Linked DNA regions of Homo sapiens: regions 2 and 3 are each linked to region 1. Evidence: fine-mapped expression QTL. Tissue or cell type: whole blood. Region 1 holds a variant in brackets; each other region holds the start of a gene. All regions are shown on one strand. Distances are from middle to middle.

What was found. PIP is the estimated chance that this variant, and not a neighbour inherited with it, causes the effect.
Region 2: it holds the start of PARP2, and the variant in region 1 is fine-mapped to the expression of PARP2 in whole blood (TOPMed, PIP 0.91).
Region 3: TEP1 starts here. The variant in region 1 is fine-mapped to the expression of TEP1 in whole blood (TOPMed, PIP above 0.99).

What each region holds. Positions count from the first base shown.
Region 1 is chr14:20,433,676-20,436,358 of GRCh38, reverse strand. KLHL33 (kelch like family member 33) reads left to right here and starts at 193. Exons shown (of 5, transcript NM_001365790.2): 1 at 193-260; 2 at 529-1,295. The coding sequence starts at 548. RefSeq lists an enhancer at 1-646. The variant A/G (reference allele first, on the strand shown) is at 1,557.
Region 2 is chr14:20,342,100-20,344,782 of GRCh38, reverse strand. PARP2 (poly(ADP-ribose) polymerase 2) reads right to left here and starts at 1,148. Exons shown (of 16, transcript NM_001042618.2): 1 at 1,096-1,148. The coding sequence starts at 1,141. It also overlaps RPPH1. RefSeq lists enhancers at 1,066-1,235, 2,166-2,265.
Region 3 is chr14:20,412,089-20,414,771 of GRCh38, reverse strand. TEP1 (telomerase associated protein 1) reads left to right here and starts at 1,271. Exons shown (of 55, transcript NM_007110.5): 1 at 1,271-1,367. RefSeq lists enhancers at 1,068-1,117, 1,618-1,687, 2,238-2,407, 1,517-2,433.

The DNA.
Region 1 (2,683 bases):
TTTGCCTAGCTCAGCACACTCCTGTATGACCTACAGGTGGAAGGGTGGGGATGTCAGTCTGGGAGGGAGCCCAGGGGATTGGGTGTCAGAGTTAGGACACCAGGTGCCAAGTGCCTAGCCAGCCAGGACTGGCTATAATTAGCCCCATGGGGCCACTGGCTGACTGGGATGCCATGTGGGCAAGTTCCCTCTGCCACGCAGCCCCAAGCACAGCGGGCGCTTAAGTGAGAGGGCAAGCGGAACGCTGGTGTCTCCTGAGGGTGACTAAAAGGATGGGGGCAATAGGGGAGGGGTGTGGTCCCGGTTACCGGATCTTTACAGGGCTTCTTGCATGTTTCACTGCACCGCGTGCACCCTATAGCTGTCCTGTATATCCCAGATACTCCAGTGCTGGGATGTGGCTGAGGGTAGGAGGAGGGTGTTGGAGCAGGGGAGAGACTGACATTTCAACTGGCTGGAGACATGGTTGCTCTGGCCTCTTTGGGCCCAGCTCTGACGCCAGGCTGTCTTGCCTCTGCTCACCTGCAGCTATCCAGCAAACCTCGGCATGAGCGTCTCGGACACCCCACATTATCCCCCTGAGCTGGAGAGTGTCTCTCATCCCGTCCAGAGGGACTGCCTTGGACTCCTTGTGCACGCCCAGAGAACCCCTTCCTGGCCTCCCTCCCCCGACGAGGATCCCAGATTGCCTTCCTTTCCTCTGGAGGAGCCTGGTTCCAGGCCCCTGGTCCCAAGGAACCTTCCCTTTCCAGCCTTGTCCCTAGAGGAAGAAGAGGAAGAGGAAGAAGATGAAGATGCGGCAGAGCCCGAGTGGCTGCGCAGCGAGGAGCATCCGAGCCAGTTTTTCGCCGAGGCCCAGCGGCTGCGGGAGCAGAGACTGTTGCTGGACGAAGAGGTGTCAGTCGCGGGGCGGGTATACGGGGTGCATCGGGTGATCCTGGCCGCAATCAGCAGCCTCTTCCGAGACAGGCTGCTGGGCGGCGGAGGTCCGCGGCCCCCCTTCAGCCTCGAGGTGTCCCCAGGGGGCTGGGAGGCCGTGCTGACCTTTGCCTATGAGGGGGTGCTGGGCCCCGCCTCGCAGGGGGATGTGCTGGCCGCAGCAGAGGCGCTGGGAGCGCCCCGGGTGAAGGCTGCTGCCCAGCAGACATGCGAGAGGGCTGGAAATGCCAGGGAAGATGTAAAGAAGCCCAGCCAGGCAGAGGAGCTGAGGGAGAACCTGCGCGGAATCGAGCTCCTCTACCGAGAGGGCGTCGGGTGTGACTTGAAGCTGGAGGCAGGCGGCTGCCAGCTGTCGGGTGAGGGCCTGTGGGGCATTAAATTACTGCAGGTGCATATGCTAACGGAATGGTGTGTGCAAGCAGCAGGTGGTTTTATCCCCACCATGATGGTTTTGATCCCTGCTGCTGTCAGAATTTCCCTGGGGTGGCCTTTGGTGCCTCTCCTGCCCCACGGAGAGCCGGGCATGCGCAGTCGAGTTGTTTTCTAGGCGCTCTGACAGATTTAAACTGACCCTCTGTCTGGCTTTTCCTGTGTCCAGTAACAAGGAATCTCCAGCC[A/G]GCTGGCTAGAGCTAAGGGTACAATCCATGGCAGTAGAACAAGCAGAAAGTGGATTGACTCAAGCAGAAATTAACAAAAGGCCCTTCTTGGCATCCTCCATTCAGGACACAGGAAAGCCAGGGGAACATGGTGGAAAACTCAATGTGTGCTTTCACCTTGGTGTGCTTGACGCCATGGCTGACTTATGGGCCCTGCAGCTAATGAGCAAGGTCTGGTACTGTTTAAGGTTACCAGGCCGTGGCACTTTTTTTTTTTTTTTCTGAGACAGCATCTCACTCTGTTGCCCAGGCTGGAGTGCAGTGGCACAATCTTGGCTCACTGCAACCTGCACCTCCTGGGTTCAAGTGATTGTCCTGCCTCAGCCTCCCGAGTAGCTGGGATTACAGGCACCTGCCACCATGCCTGGCTAATTTTTTTGGTATTTTTTTAGTAGAGATGGGGTTTCACCAGGTTGGCCAGGCTTGTCTTGAACTCTTAACCTCAGGTGATCCACCTGTCTCATGCTGGGATTACAGGCATGAGTCACTGCACCCGGCCTGGCCATGGCACTTTGAAGTTAACTCTGCTCATCACCAGGAAAGCTAAGTAGGGTTGCATAAGTTGAGTATTATTCGGAGTCTACTAACATTTAGTGAGGCACTGGGTACCTGAAATTTTTACACATGACATCTCTTTTTAAATTTTACTGAAAGCTGGTGAGGTCAATATCATTATCTACAGGTGCACATAAGGAACATTAAATTTGGAGATGTTGACTTGGGACAACCCCAGGATACAAGCCTACATCACTAGTCCAGTCTCCTTCCACTAGGCCATGTGGACACATTGAAAGTTTAAAATTACAAGGGATTAGTTTAGAGATTATCTAGTTGGGCTGTTACACTTTGATGATGACGAAATCAGAATCCAAGACTTGTCCAAAGTCACATAGCTACTGCCCATTAGAGGAGTGACTGGGAACTGAAGTGCTTCTGGGACTCCTAGAAGGAAAACCACTCCAAAAGTCTATTTTCATTTATGATAGCACTAGATGGAGAGGGGATTTAAATTTTTCATAATCATAAAATTCTCACTAGGCTTTTGAATTTAAGCATACTCATATCACTGCTTTTATTTCCCTAGGAAA
Region 2 (2,683 bases), 92 kb after region 1:
GGACTGCAGTGGTGCGATCTTGGCTCACTGCAACCTCCGCCTCCTGGGTTCAAGTGATTCTCGTGCCTCAGCCTCCTGAGTAGCTGGGATTACAGGCGTGCACCACCATGCCCAGTTAATTTTTGTATTTTTAGTAGAGACAGGGTTTCACCATGTTGGCCAGGCTGGTCTCGAACTCGTGACCTCAAGTGATCTGCCCTCCTCGGCCTCCCAAGGGATTACAGGCGTGAGCCACCTCACCCCGCCGGTTTAAGATAATTTTCTAAGTTTACAGAGGCAATAACAACTGTCCCACACTACTTTTGTGTAACAGTCTGTGTAATTCTTCCTAAATTGCTATTCTAGCCAAATGAAATAAAACAAAATAAAAGGGAGTCCCAGGAGTCTTGTAAGCTCATAGATTGAGGCCTGCTTATCTGTTTTACTTGTGTCCCAATGTCCCCCAAATACCCACCTCATACATGAGGCCGTATGGGATAAAGGTTAGTTAAGTGCTCAAGGGTCTGTGCCTAATTTAGAGCCTAGCTCTGCTGCTTTTCTCTGTGGAAACTTGGAGAAGTATTTGATCTCTTCCTACTTCACTTACTCCAATATTAGAATATTGTACAATACTGTACTTCTAGAGAAGTACAATAGAACCTAATTTATAGGGTGCACCTATGCATTTAAGAACATTATACACATAATACCGTATCTCAATAGGTCTAAGACTCGCATTTTACTCTCTGGAACTGGGATGCATCTTACAATGGATGACATAAGCAGTGAATCACAGTTCACCATTTTCAGTGCTTATCCTTTGTTGTGTATAAAATAATGGTGTGCCTTACAATTACTTTTTGTAAATTGGATGACATTAGGTATTAACAACAGTACTGGCACATTAGTTGTTACAGCTCCGCAAGGCTTTATGCACAATTATGTAATCCCCAAAGCTCTGAAAACCGAAATTTACAAAATTTAGCACCCCAACTGGTTTGGTAGCCAAGTGCAGGTTATAGGGAGCTGGAAGGGGAAGGGGGTCACAGTAGGTGGCATCGTTCCTTTCTGACTGCCCGCCCCCCGCATGCCGTCCCGCGATATTGAGCTCCGAACCTCTCGCCCTGCCGCCGCCGGTGCTCCGTCGCCGCCGCGCCGCCATGGAATTCGAACGCTGACGTCATCAACCCGCTCCAAGGAATCGCGGGCCCAGTGTCACTAGGCGGGAACACCCAGCGCGCGTGCGCCCTGGCAGGAAGATGGCTGTGAGGGACAGGGGAGTGGCGCCCTGCAATATTTGCATGTCGCTATGTGTTCTGGGAAATCACCATAAACGTGAAATGTCTTTGGATTTGGGAATCTTATAAGTTCTGTATGAGACCACTTTTTCCCATAGGGCGGAGGGAAGCTCATCAGTGGGGCCACGAGCTGAGTGCGTCCTGTCACTCCACTCCCATGTCCCTTGGGAAGGTCTGAGACTAGGGCCAGAGGCGGCCCTAACAGGGCTCTCCCTGAGCTTCGGGGAGGTGAGTTCCCAGAGAACGGGGCTCCGCGCGAGGTCAGACTGGGCAGGAGATGCCGTGGACCCCGCCCTTCGGGGAGGGGCCCGGCGGATGCCTCCTTTGCCGGAGCTTGGAACAGACTCACGGCCAGCGAAGTGAGTTCAATGGCTGAGGTGAGGTACCCCGCAGGGGACCTCATAACCCAATTCAGACTACTCTCCTCCGCCCATTTTTGGAAAAAAAAAAAAAAAAAAAAAACAAAACGAAACCGGGCCGGGCGCGGTGGTTCACGCCTATAATCCCAGCACTTTGGGAGGCCGAGGCGGGCGGATCACAAGGTCAGGAGGTCGAGACCATCCAGGCTAACACGGTGAAACCCCCCCCCATCTCTACTAAAAAAAAAAAATACAAAAAATTAGCCATTAGCCGGGCGTGGTGGCGGGCGCCTATAATCCCAGCTACTTGGGAGGCTGAAGCAGAATGGCGTGAACCCGGGAGGCGGAGCTTGCAGTGAGCCGAGATCGCGCCACTGCATTCCAGCCTGGGCGACAGAGCGAGTCTCAAAAAAAAAAAAACCGAGTGGAATGTGAAAAGCTCCGTGAAACTGCAGAAACCCTTTGGGAACAGAGGGAACCATGGGGCAGGAAGCCCACGAAAATTCTAATTGGTCTTCTGGTTCTTGGTGACATCAGGTGAGGGGCGCCCAAATGTTTGGCTTCATGAGAATCACCGAGTATGGGGACTGCATACTTAAGCAAATTCCCCACCCCAGACCCTCCGATTCAATAAGCCTGTATTAACAAAATCACTGGGTAATCCTGGTTTTGGCACTAATATCATTTAGAAACATATTGTTAGGATAGCATAGTATCTGTTATAGAGCAACCTGAGCAAAATAGCGAAACCTCGTCTCTATTACAAAAAAAAAAAAAAAAAAAGTGAAAAATTAGCCAGGCGTGGTCGCGGGCGCCTGTAATCCCAGCTACTTGGGAGGCTGAGGCACGAGAGTCGCTTGAACCCGGGAGGCGGAGGTTGCAGTGAGCCGAGATCCCGCCACTGAACTCCAGCCTGGGTGACAGAGTGAGACTCCGTCTGAAAAAAACAAAGAAAAAAAAATTGATACATTTTAATTTTTGTTCATCAAAAGATGTAAAGTTTAGAAAGAAAAAACCCAAAATCTCATTATTTGCATGTAATTTGAT
Region 3 (2,683 bases), 22 kb after region 1:
ATGTTTCAGAAAAATAAAAAGAGCTTTAAAATATTTGTTATAAAAAGGAAATGTTTTAGTTCAGGTTGCTATAACAAATTACCGTAGACCGGGTGGCTTAAACAACAAATATTATTTCTCACAGTTCTAGAGAATGGAAGTCCAAGATCAGATTGCCAGCATGGTCTGCCTCTGAAGATGAGGGTCTTCCTTGGGATTGCAGATGGCTGTTTTCTTGTATCCTCATATCGTGGAAAAAGAGCTAGCTAGCTCTTCCGTCTCTCCTTATGAGGCCACCAATCCCATTTATGAGTATTCTAAACTCCATGACCTAATGACCTCCCAGAGATCCCACCCTAAATACCATCGCATTGGGATTAGGGTTTCAATATATAAATTTTGGGGAGACACAAACATAAAGACCATTGCAGGGAGTGTTGGGACTGGTGGCAATAGAGGTTTCTAAGGAAGGAAAGGGGTACTGGCTCAGTTAATAGAGGACAGAATGCCCTCAATTCTGAGCGGAAGCTCAGCTGTTACCTGAGACTCAAGGGTACCTCTCTAAGGAAAGCAATGATATTTTCCAGAAGACAGCTAATCTGCTTTATATAAAGGCAGAAAGCATATTTCTCCTGCTACTATGTTTGGTCCTCTCTTTATGAAGCTAGGATTATTAACCTAAGGGTCACTTGTCTCTTTCCTAAGCCTGGTTCCATCTTCCTGGAAAGGGTTCAGCATTAATCATTCAGGATGGCTCCAGATAGATTCTGTGTGATCCACGGATCTCTCTTCTGATCAACAGGAGGGGAGGCACTTGCTCTCAGTTCAGCGAACTTTGATTGACTGATGTCTACACTTGGTTACAGGCGGTTGCTTTCCGCTTTCCGTCTCCTTTTAAGGAGTTCCTCAAAGGAACTTTAGGATGAATTGAGTCTGACCGTCTTTGATATTAGGAAGGAGAGGTGTACAGCTAGGCAGCGAGCATGCTAAAATCTTTTCCAGGAAACGGTGTTTGAAGAGTTAATGGGAGAAAAAAAGACGAAAATTAGCCAGAGGAGACGAATTTGGTAGAGGGGGAAGCCCTAGGGACAGGAGAAAATAGGACCAGAAAGGGAAAAAAAATAGAAACAATAACAAACTAAACTCGGGCCCCAGAAAAGGCGGCAGGGGTCCTGGGCATTCGCGTCGCAGCCCTGGCATGTCGTCTTGCCCGGCCCTCGGCTCGCTGCCCTTCCAGCAGCTGCTGCGCCCCGCCCGGGCCCGAGAGTCTCCGCCCGCACCGTCTCTTCTCAGATCCGCATCCGGCTCCTCCCCCGGCTGCCACCCTTCCCACCGGCAGAATCCAGAGCGAAGTTTCTGCTTCCTGCTGCGGGAATCGGACGCCCCAGGTCAGGCACCCAGGGTTTCCAGCCCCAGTCTAAGGTAGGGTCCGAGCGCAGGCAGAACTTGCCCTGGCCCTGGGTCTAGGGCGCTGGGCTCTGAGGCTGAGAGCTGGGTGGGAAGTGCCTGGCGGGGCCGGTTAGGAACCACCCGAGACTCAGCTAGGGGTGCATCCACCCTGCTCCTCCCGGCGGCTCCGGGAAGGGGAGGGAGTGTATACTGCGTGAAAGGGGAGGTGAGAAAGGAGGAGGAGAAGGCTGAAGGAGAGGGAGGGACAGGAAGAGAGACCACGTAAGAATCATCCCCTCTTACTTCCTTGCCCTGTGTGCCCATCGAAAGGGGACAGTGGCTGTCACCAACAAATGGTAGTATGAGAACCGTTTGTGATAATAGAAACCCAGACTGTGCTTAAATGTGCTAGACTACCATACAGCCACTTGAAGAGTGAGGTGGAGGCCGGGCGCGGTGGTTCACGCCTGTAATCCCAGCACTTTGGGAGGCGGAGGTTGGGGATCACCTGAGGTCAGGAGTTTGAGACCAGCCTGACCAACATGGTGAAAACCCTCTCTACTGAAAATACAAAAAAATTAGCCGGGCATGGTGGTGGGCGCCTGTAATCCCAGTTACTCGGAAGGCTAAGGCAGGAGAATCGCTTGAACTCGGCAGGCAGAGATTGCAGTGAGCTGAACAACAGAGCCAGACTCCGCCTCAAAAAAAAAAAAAAAAAAAAAAGGAAAGAGTGAGGTGGGTATTAATGTGTTAACAGGGCAAGGTCTCTGAGATATACTAAGTGCAGAATAGCATCTAACTTATGATCCTGTTTGTGTAAAGCAAAAGCAAAAGCAGTGGTGATGGTGAAGGCATGTATTTGCATATGCATAGAAACTGTGAAACTGTTAGTATAAAACTGTGAGCAATGTTTACTTCCAGAGAAGGGAACTAGAGATGGAAGTGGGGACGGAACTTTAACTTTCCATTTGTGGTTCAGCCGAATCTCCTTTCAAAAACTCCAGGGTGCAAAACAATAAAATGAGCAAAATAGTGAGACTGTCCTTTTAAGGATAGGACAGTCTCACTATGTTGCTCAAATAAACTGTCCTTATTTTTCTGTTTATTTTTGGCTTGAGATCTCTTTTAAAAAAAATCTGAGTCAATTCTGAGTTTCCCCACTCCTTTCCTTGGGGGCTTATATAGGGCAACGACATGAGCAAAGTGTATTGGGCACAGAAGCCATCATTTTTTACGTGTTTGTCACACTGACGTCCAGTGAGATATTGTTGTCCTTTTTGGCCCTGGATTGTTAGTCATTCAGGTCTTCTTGGAA